Linked DNA regions of Homo sapiens: region 1 is linked to region 2. A link means that fine-mapping ties the variant in region 2 to the expression of a gene that starts in the linked region. Tissue or cell type: whole blood. Region 2 holds a variant in brackets; the other region holds the start of a gene. All regions are shown on one strand. Distances are between the middles of the regions.

Evidence for each region. PIP is the estimated chance that this variant, and not a neighbour inherited with it, causes the effect.
Region 1: PPT1 starts here. The variant in region 2 is fine-mapped to the expression of PPT1 in whole blood (TOPMed, PIP above 0.99).

What each region holds. Positions count from the first base shown.
Region 1 is chr1:40,094,999-40,099,223 of GRCh38, forward strand. PPT1 (palmitoyl-protein thioesterase 1) reads right to left here and starts at 2,254. Exons shown (of 9, transcript NM_000310.4): 1 at 2,117-2,254. The coding sequence starts at 2,240. RefSeq lists an enhancer at 1,989-2,118.
Region 2 is chr1:40,135,556-40,142,011 of GRCh38, forward strand. No RefSeq gene overlaps it. Among named protein-coding and RNA genes, the nearest start is that of RLF, 23 kb to the right of the region's middle. The variant G/A (reference allele first, on the strand shown) is at 3,197.

The sequences.
Region 1 (4,225 bases), 42 kb before region 2:
TTTTTCTGTAACCCATCCCAATAAAGATCTCACTATCACGACTCTCCCAAAACTGCTTTTGTCAAGATTAATCATCTTTATATTGCTAAATCCAATAATCAGTTGTCAGCCTTTATCTTCCTTGACCCATTAACATTTGATACAGTTGATCATGACCTATCAACATTTGATGCAGTTGATCATGCCCTTCTTCCTGAAACATTTTCTTCACTTGGCTTCAAGGACACTGCGCTTTCCTGACCCCTCCACTTCACCGGCTATTTGGTTACAGCCTCCTTTGCTAGTTTCTCCTCATTTCCTCCACCTCCAAATGGAATGGAGTGCCTCAGGGCTTAGTCCTCTGTGTACGCTCATTTCCTAGGTGGTCTCACCTAGCCTTTAACTACTAGCTGTATGCCGAAGACTCCCTACTTAAATCTCCAACCCGTATCTCTGTCCTAGACTCCACACTCCAAATGCCTCTACAACATCTCCTGGGTGTCTCATGAGGATCTCAAGTTTAGTAAGCCCAAAAGCAGACTCTTGATCTTTCCCCCACCCTAAGTCAGCTTGTCCTACAGGCTTCCCCATCTTGGTAAAATGAAAACTTCACCCTTCCAATTGTTCAGGCCAAAACCTGTGGAGTCATCTTTGGCTCCTTTCTTTCTCTCTTATTCCAAGTCTGATCTGTTAGCAATCCACCTTCAAAATCTATCCAAACTTTGACCACTTCTCAACACCTCTACTGTTACTCTACAGTTCCAAGTCATCATCTCTTGTTTAAATTATTGCAATAGTTTCCTAACCTGTCTCCCTGTGACCATCCATGACGCCCTACGATCTATTCTTAATACAGCAACTAAAGTGATTCTTTAAAAATGTGTCAGATCATGTCACTCATCTGCTCAAAAAGTTCCCCATGACACTCTAGCCAAAGTCCCTGCATTAGTCTTACTAGGCCCAATAACTTCTGTACCTGCCCCTCCCTTCCAAACTAAACTCCTAACTTCTTCCCCTTGCTTACTCATTTCCAGCCACGCTGATCTGAATGCTGTCCCTTGAACACACCAGACATACTTCCACATCAGGGCTTTCCCATTTACTGTTCCTTCTACCAGACAGCCAAATGGCAACTGTCCTCATCTACCTCAGTTTTGTACTCAGATGTCACTTTTTCAATGAATTCTTTCCCAACTTTGCTTTATTAAAAGTGCAAGCCCCCACCTCCAGTTTTTATCCTACACCCTACTATATTTTTCTCTGTTGCACATATCACCATTTGATATGTTATGTTTTACTTGTTAATTTCTTTATAATCTGCTTCTCCTACTGGAGAGTAGGTTCCAAAAGAACAAAGAATTTAGTCTGTTTAGTTCCCTACTGTATCCTCAGCACCTAGTAGGTGCTCAATAACTGTGTTAAATGAATATAGGTTGAGCATCCTAATCTGAAAATGGGAAACCCAAAATCTGAAAGTTTTTCAGCGCAGACATGATGCCACAAGTGGAAAATTCCACACCTGACCTCATGTGATGGGTTGCACAAAATTATTTAAAATATTGCATAAAATTACCTTCCAGCTATGTGTATAAGGTGTATATGAAAAATAAATAAATTTCCTGTTTACACTTGGGTCCCACCCCCCAGATCTCTTGTATATATGCAAATATTAAAAAAAAAAAAATCCGAAATGCTTCCCAGTCCCAAGCATTTCAGATAAGGGTTACTCAATTTGTAAATGAACTGTAGGTGCCTAACAAATCTCTGTTCAATGTGTGAAGGAATAAATAAAAGGGTAGATGCGCCAGTCATATAGCCAGCCGCAGCTCACCTAGCCTGACCAAGTGAGAGATGCTGCATCCTGACGCCACTACTGTAAGGATTAATCAAGGACAGCATGTAAAACTTCAACGCCGTGCGCGGCTCTCTCTTTCCTTCCCCTTCTCTCTTTCCAGTGAAGGGGACGGCTCCTTCCCCTTCTCTCTTTCCAATGCAGATCCTTCAAATCCTAAAATGTCGAGGCAGCCGCGTGCTGTGGGACCACGTCCTCGCCCTCTACACCCGCATTTTGCAGATGCGAACCCAGGCTAGGAAGAGAGAGAATCGCCAAACCCTTTTAAATTTCTCACTCACTCACCCATCCCATGCCAGATCACCAACGGCAGCGGCGCCGGCGGGTCCAGATGCTGCAGCGCCCGAGAAGCGCAGGTCCATGGCAGGAGAGCCACAGCCAAGAGCCACAGGCAGCCGGGCGACGCCATCTTCGCTGTGTCACATGACCGCGGGCGCGAGACTCCGGGAACCGCGCTCCGCCCGCCTGGGCGTGGCGCCGCCGGTTGCAGATCGCAACCTGCGCATCCCGAACGGATGCCCAGCCTGATGGGCGTCGGCCCTACCCTGGAGCTTTCAGCGCGACAGGTCCCCCGCCAGACCCCGCTGGCCGAGTGGGGCTCTGCGCTCTCGTAGACCGCCCTCTGCGGTGAATCAAAATAATTGCTAACATATATTCAGTGCTGATCAGATGCTATCAGGCACTATTCTTACAACCTTTAACTAATTCACTCTTCATAACAATGCTGTATGCACTTCTCCCCCTGACAGGTGAGGACACTGAGGCACTGCGAATTGGCACTGAGTAAGGTGCCCAAGGTCACAGAGATAGCAAATTGGTGGTTCCAAAGTCGTTGCTCTTCACCACTGCCCTGTACTGCCTTTGCAAGAAACATGCACAGAGGAAGGAAGAAAGAAGGAGGGACGGTTTCCAGCCAGGACCAATCATGGCAGGGTGTGGGGTTTGTTCTGGATATTGAAGGAGAGGTAGGATTTCAACAAGCAAAGATGAAATTCAGAAGGACTGAGATGAGCTAAGGTAGAGAGGAGAAAGACAACTGTGTTTTCTAGAAATGTCGGGACTTCAAGACGGACGAAAGCATATGTTGGATGCATAAGAGTGAGGGGGAAACCCATGGCCACTAACTGGCCTAATCTCAGCTGGATTATTTCAAGGGTCTCTCATCAACCATTTCCTTTTCCATTCTCTCCTCTTTAATTCATTTTATGCTCTATTGCCACATTCATCCCTCAATCCACCTTCATAATATCAGTTCCCTGCTCAAGTTTTTTTTCAACAAAACATCAAAAAATAGTTTAAATAATTTATAAAGAAATTAGAGTGTATCCACTATACAATGGAATAATATGAGGCCAGTTTTATAAAAAATGAGTATAGGGCCGGGCGCGGTGGCTCACTCCTGTAATCCCAGCACTTTGGGAGGCTGAGGTGGGCAGATCATCTAAGGTAGCGAGTTCGAGACCAGCCTGACCAACATGGAGAAATCCCGTCTCTACTAAAATTACAAAATTAGCCGGGTGTGGTGGCGCATACTTGTAATCCCAGCTACTCAGGAGGCTGAGGCAGGAGAATCTCTTGAACCCGGGAGGCAGAGGTTGCGGTAAGCTGAGATCATACCATTGTACTCCAGCCTGGGCAACAAGAGCAAAACTCTGTCTCAAAAAATAAGAATAAAAAATAAATAAAAAGAGAGTACAGCCCAGGCAGCATAGCAAGACCCCATCTCTACAAAAAAAAAATTTTTTTTTAATTAGCCAGGGGTGGTGGTATGTGCCTGTAATCCTAGCTACTGGGGAGGCTAAGGTGGGAGGATCACTTGAGCCCAGGAGTTCAAGGCTGCATTGAGCTATGATCTCGCCATTGCACTGAGCTATGATCTCGCTGTTGCCCTGGGCAACAGTGAGACCCTGTCTCTCTCAAAAAAGAAAAATGAGGTAAATTTACATAAAGTGACATGAAAAATGCCCTTAATATGTTGTAAAAGAAAAGTCGATTACAAACCCACGGTCTGTAATCTCTTCTATTCCATGCCATTGGGACTAGAGGTAAGTTGTTAGTTGAAAAGTCGATTAAAATGCAGAATCCACTGGGCGCACTTTGGGAGGCTGAGGCAGGTGGATCACCTGAGGTTGGGAGTTTGAGACCAGCCTGGCCAACATGATGAAACCCCATCTCTACTAAAAATACAAAAAATTAGCCGGGCATGGTGGTGGGTGCCTGTAATCCCAGCTACTCAGGAGGCTGAGACAGGAGAATCACTTGAACCCAGGAGGCAGAGGGTGCAGTGAGCCAAGATTGAGCTACTGCACTCCAGCCTGGGCAACAAGAGTGAAACTCTGTCTCAAAGAAAAAAAAATGCAGAATCATAAAGCATTATACAGTACAGTATACAGT
Region 2 (6,456 bases):
TTGTATTACTCATATTTCACTAAAACCGTGATACTGGCATAAAGACAGACATATTGCTATATGTGGCCACAGGTTACCATATTGGACAACGCAACCACAGGGCCTGAAAAATGAGTTGCTTGCCAGGCACGGTGGTGTGCACCTGTAGTCCCAGCCACCCAGGAGGCTGAGGTGGGAGAATCATTTGAGCCCAAGAGTTCGATGCTGCAATGAACTATGATGACACCACTGCACTCCAGCCTGGATGACAGAGGAAGACTCAATCCATGCTTATTGTGATAACAAATTCCCCATGTATCCAAGTTGTAAAGAAAGGTAAGATGTACCTAATGAAGGTGTGGGCTTCATAATAAATCACAGAAATATCTGTTTATAATGATAGCCAATATTTATTTAGCACTTTCTATGTACCAGGCACTGTACCACAAGCTTCACAAGGGTAATCTCATTTACGTTAATCCTCACAACACCTAATAAGAGAATAATAATGGCTGATATTTACATAACATTGTTCTAGACATTTTGCATATATTAACACATTTGATCCTCAGGGAACCCCATGATGTAGTTTCTACTAGTTTTCAATTTTAAAGATCTGAGACACAAAGAGTTTAACAGCCTTACCTAGTAAGTACAGAGCCAGCATCTGTGTACATGTATTTTAAAAATATACATTATTATTTTTCTAATCTTAGAAAGAGAAGAGTCATATTGAATGATTTGATTTCAAGTACATTGAGCAAATGAATCAAAGATCATTTTATTCTGTTGAATGATACATGGCCATAAAAGATGTTGTGACTATGCAGTACTTGTTAAATTTTATCTTTATCTTTGAATAAGATAAAGCAATCCTATCAAAACTCACTAAACTCTTTATGACCCCCAAAAGGCCTGTGGAACAAATAAACCCATGAGAGATGAGCCCTCTTTTCCGACGTAATAGCCTTGGGGGAGGTGGACCAGAAAGCTGCTGAGCCTGCTCTAATTGGCACAAACAGGGAAGGAAAAAATCTCATAAAACGTTGTCTTGGGCTTTTCAACTTTCTCTGGACAGGATTCCAGTACTATTAAGGCATATCTCAAAAGTGCCCCTAATTTCATGTCTGTGGCCAGTCATGACTATTTTAAGAACACCCTGAATTATAAGAATAGGTAATGGTGCCATCTCCTTCTATAGAAAAGCATTTTTAAAAGTTTTTGTTTTATAGAAATATCCATCCTAAAATTTATGTGAAATTTCAAGAGACCCTGAATGGTCAAAACAATCTTTAAAAAGAAAAACAAAGTTGTAGGTTTTACATTTTCTGATTTTGAAACTTTTAATGAAGCCAGAGTCACTAAAACAGTGTGCTCTTGGCATAAAGACAGACATATAGACCAATGGAGTAGAAATAGAGCCCAGAAATAAACCCTCCTATATATGATCAAATGACTTTTGGCAAGGGTGCCAGGTATATTCAACTGGGAAAGGACAGTCTTTTCAAGAAATAGTTTTGGGAAAACTGGATATCCACATATAAATGAATAAAGTTAAAACCCTACCTTATACCATATACAGTAATTAATTCGAAGACCTAAAATAATTAGATCAAAGACCTCAAATAAGAGCTAAAACTATAAAACTTTTAAAAGAAAACATAACGTTGTTTATAACGATTGTTCATAACGTTGGATTTAGCAGTGATTTCTTGAATATGACACCAAAAGCACAGGCAACAAAAGTGAAAATAGATAAAACTATGCTCTAGGCTGGGCGCTGTGGCTCACGCCTGTAATCCCAGCAATTTGGGAGGCCGAGGCGGGCGGATCACCTGAGGTTGGGAGTTCAAGACCAGCCTGACCAACATAGAGAAACCCTGTCTCTGCTAAAAATACAAAATTTAGCCAGGTGTGGTGGTGGGCGCCTGTAATCCCAGTTACTCAGGAGGCTGAGATGGGAGAATCGCTTGAGCCTGGGAGGCGGAGGTTGCAGTGAGCTGAGATCGTGCCATTGCACTCCAGCCCGGGCAACAAGAGTGAAACTGTCTCAAAAAACAAACAAACAATGCTCTAAAGGACACAATCAGGGTAAAAAGGCAACCCACAGAATGAGAGAAAATAATTGCACTCCTATATCTGATAAGGGGTTAATATCCAGAATATACAGAGAGTTCTCACAGCAAAACAAACAACCCAATTAAAAATTGGGCAAATAAGCTGGGCACAGTGGCTCACGCCTGTAATTCCAGCACTTTGGGAGGTTGAGGCAGGAGGATCATGAGGTCAGGAGATCGAGACCATCCTGGCTAGCACAGTGAAACTTTGTCTCTACTAAAAATGCAAAAAAATTAACCAGGCATGGTGACGTGCACCTGTAATCCCAGCTACATGGGAGGCTGAGGCAGGAGAATTGCTTGAACTGGGAGGTGGAGGTTGCAGTGAGCTGAGATCACACCACTGCACTCCAGCCTGGGCAACAGAGCAAGACTCCGTCGCAAAAAAAAAAAACAAAAAAAACAAAAAGGGCAAAGAGCTTGAATAGTTATTTCTCCAAAGAAGATATGCACATGGCCAAAAAGCACATGCAAAGATGTTTGACATCACTAATCATTAGGGAAACGCAAATCAAAACAACGAGCTACAATCTCATACGCATTAGGATGGCCACTATCAAAAATATGAAGAAAATAACAAGTTTTGGTGAGGATGTGGAGAAATCAGAATCCTTGTGTACTGTTGATGGGAATGAAAAATGGTGCAGCTGTTGGCTGGGCGCGGTGGCTCACACCTGTAATTCCGGCACTTTGGGAGGCCAAGGCGGGTGGATCACCTGAGGTCAGGAGTTTGAAACCAGCCTGGTCAACATGGTGAAACCCCATCTCTACTAAAAATACAAAAATTAGCTGGTCGTGGTGGCGGGTGCCTGTAATCCCAGCTACTCGGGAGGCTGAGGCAGGAGAATCACTTGAACCCGGGAGGCGGAGGTTGCAGTGAGCCAGCATCACGCCATTGTACTCCAGCCTGGGCAACAAGAGCAAAACTCTGTCTCAAAAAAAAAAAAAAAAAAAAAGAAAGAAAAGAAAAGAAAAGAGAGAAAAATGGTGCAGCTGCTATGGAAAACAGTATGGCAGTTCCTCAAAAAATTAAACATAAAATTTTCATATGATCCAGCACTGATACTTCTGGGTATATATCCAAAAGAATTGAAGGCAAG[G/A]TCTTGAAGAGTTATTTGTACACCCATGTTCAGAGCAGCATTATTCACAATAGCTGAAACATGGAAGCAACCCAAATGTCCATCAACAGATGAATGGATAAGCAAAATAGGATATATCCATACAATGGAATATTATTCCACCTTAAAAAGGAAGGAAATCCTGACATATGCTATACCATGGATGTAGCACCTTGACAACATTACGCTAAGCCAGTCACAAAAAGACAAATACTGTATGATTCCACCTATATCAGGTACTTAGTAGTCAAATTTATAGACAGAAAGTTGAATAGTGGTTGTTAGGGGCTGGGGAGAAGGGAAATGGGGAGTTGTTTAATGGGTATAGAGTTTTAGATTGCAAGATAAGAGTTTTGGAGATTGGTTGCACAACAATGCAGATGTACTTAACACTATTGAACTATATGCTTAAAAACGGACAGGTTGGTAAATTTTATTTTATGTATATTTTGCCACAATTAAAAAATGGTTTTGAATAATTTCACACTTAGAAAAGATTTGCAAGATTAGTACAGAGAATCCTGAAGAATCTCCACCAGAGGCATTTTATCATATTTGCCTCCTTATCTCTTTATTTCTCTCTCTCTCTTTCCATATATATATACACACACACACACACACACACACACACACACACACACACATAAATATACACGAATTTACACCTAGTAGTTTTAGCATCCATTAATGATTCTTGCCTGGATTATTACTATAATGGCCACCAAATAGAGATTTTCCTATGTCCATTGTTTCTTCTACATTTATTACTTGAATTCTATAGTAAAGTATCATTTCCTTTCCCGTATCCTCTTTTTTTTTTTTTTTTTTTTTTGAGACCAAGTCTTGCTCTGTTGCCCAGGCTGCAGTGTAGTGGCGAGATCTTGGCTCACTACAACCTCCGCCATCCAGATTCAAAAGATTCTCATGCCTCAGTCTCCTGAGTAGCTGCGACTACAGGTGCACGCTGCCACACCCAGCTAATTTTTGTAATTTTAGTAGAAATGGGATTTCACCATGCTGGCCAGGCTGGTCTCAAACTCCTGACCTTAAGTGATCTGCCTGCCTCAGCCTCCCAAAGTGCTGTGATTACAGGCATGAGCCACTGGACCTGGTCTCCTGTATCCTTTTTAATTAATTTTTTATTTATATTAGTGTGGGCTTAAGGATTCCCAATTTATTCAATAAGTTATAATTCCTTACAATCATAATTTACTTTGATGACTAGATTGTCCCTGATTTGGCCAGTGGGAGCCTCTTTACACTGGCTCCTGTGTTCTTTTGACATTTCTCATCTGTATTAGTTTGCTATGCCTGCTGTAACAGTGTACCACAAACTCGGTGGCTTAAAACAGCTGCAGTTCTCATGGTTCTGAAGTCCAGACATTCAAAATCAACTTCACTGGGCCCAAATCAGGAATATTAACACGGCCATGCTTCCTCTGGGCTCTAGGGGAGAATTCGTTCCTTGCCTCTCCCAGCTTCCAGCTGGCACTTGGCTTGTGGCTGCACCACTCCAGTCTCTGCCTCCTGCCTTCTCCTTTTGCGTAATCTCTCTCTGCCTCTCTCTTACAAGGATACTTGTGTTTGCATTTAAAGTCCACTTGAATAATCCAAGACAATCTCCCCATCTCAAGTTCCTTGATCATATCTCTAAAGATCCTTTTTCTGTATATGATAATATTTACAGATTCCAGAGATTAGAGCTTCAGGGGCCATTACTTAGCTTACTACATCCTCATTCTTTGAATACTTCCTTTCTTCCTGAACCAGTAAGATTTTTCACTGCCCTAGTCATGAAATCAGCCATTTCTCTAAGAACTTTTGGTTTCTTTTTAGTGAAGAATGATACTTGGAAGTCAAGATGTAGATGCTAGGTGCACTCATTGCTATGGGTGTGTCGGTCTTGCAAGTCCTTTCAGTAGGACAAGGAAACAAGATATCAACTAGGAAAAATATGTCTGGACACACACACACACAATCATACGTATGATGTACATTCCGAAGTACTGTAGTGGAGTTGGCTCATATGGACTTGCAAAAGCTGCTTGTTAAATATTCAGGAACTTTGCGGGTGGCTGTGAAACTAGTATTATTTCATGCTGGGAGTATTTACACCGTGGAAATCAGCAAATGCTACAAATTAGTGTGTTTTGAAAAACCAAAAAGCCACTATACATATCATAAACACACACATCTACTCTTCTGTCTCTCTTTGTATATCATATATAATATTCACACACACACACACCCTATAGGCTCACACCTCTGACTCTAATTACAGGGTTTGTTCTAGTCTTTCCCCTTTTCATACTTATTGTCTCCAAGAGTAAGAAACCTGGCTCTCACTATTCTCAATATATTTTCTTATTTGCTCAATCTCCTGACCACATGGGCCATCTCCTTGGCCCCATTCTTACTGACCCTGACCTTGAGCTGCAGGCTTTGCCATGACCCTGCCATTCCTGACCATGAGAACCATTTATTTGGCTCTGAACCTAGTTGTCCTGACCTTGTAAGCTACTACCTCAGCCCCAGACCTGCCAGCCCAGATCACCAGAGTCTCCTTGGCCCAGGCTCCACCAGCCCTAAACTCACTTAAACAACTCTTGGCCCCAGCCCTACACATTTTCTTGTTTGTCTATTCTTCCAATTAAAAACGCCCACTTCGTCATTGTTTTTAACTGCCTGATGTTGAGTGGTCAATTTGATTTTTTCACATGGTTGGGTTAAAGACAGGGTTGCCAGATAAAATACAGGATGACCAGTTAAGTTGAATATGGGACATACATACTTATATTTAAAAATTATTTATTGTTTATGTAACTCCAAACTTAACTGGATGCCTTGTGGTTTTATTTGCTAAATCTGGCAATGCTAGTTAGAACTACAAATAAGTGGCCAGGCGCAGTGGCTCACGCCTGTAATCCCAACACTTTAGGAGGCTGAGGTGGGCAGATCACCTGAGGTCAGGAGTTCGAGGCCAGCCTGGCCAACAAGGTGAAATCCTGTCTCCACTAAAAATACAAAAATTAGCTGGGCGTGGTGGCAGGTGCCTGTAACCCCAGCTACTCGGGAGGCTGAGGCAGGAAGAACTGCTTGAACCCGGGAGGTAGAGGTTGCAGTGAGCTGAGATTGTGCCACTGCATTCCAGCCTGGGCAACAGAGCGAGATTCTGTCTCAAAAAAAAAAAAAAAAAAAAAAGAACTACAAGTAAGCATCCTTTAATCCTTCTAATCAGTCCC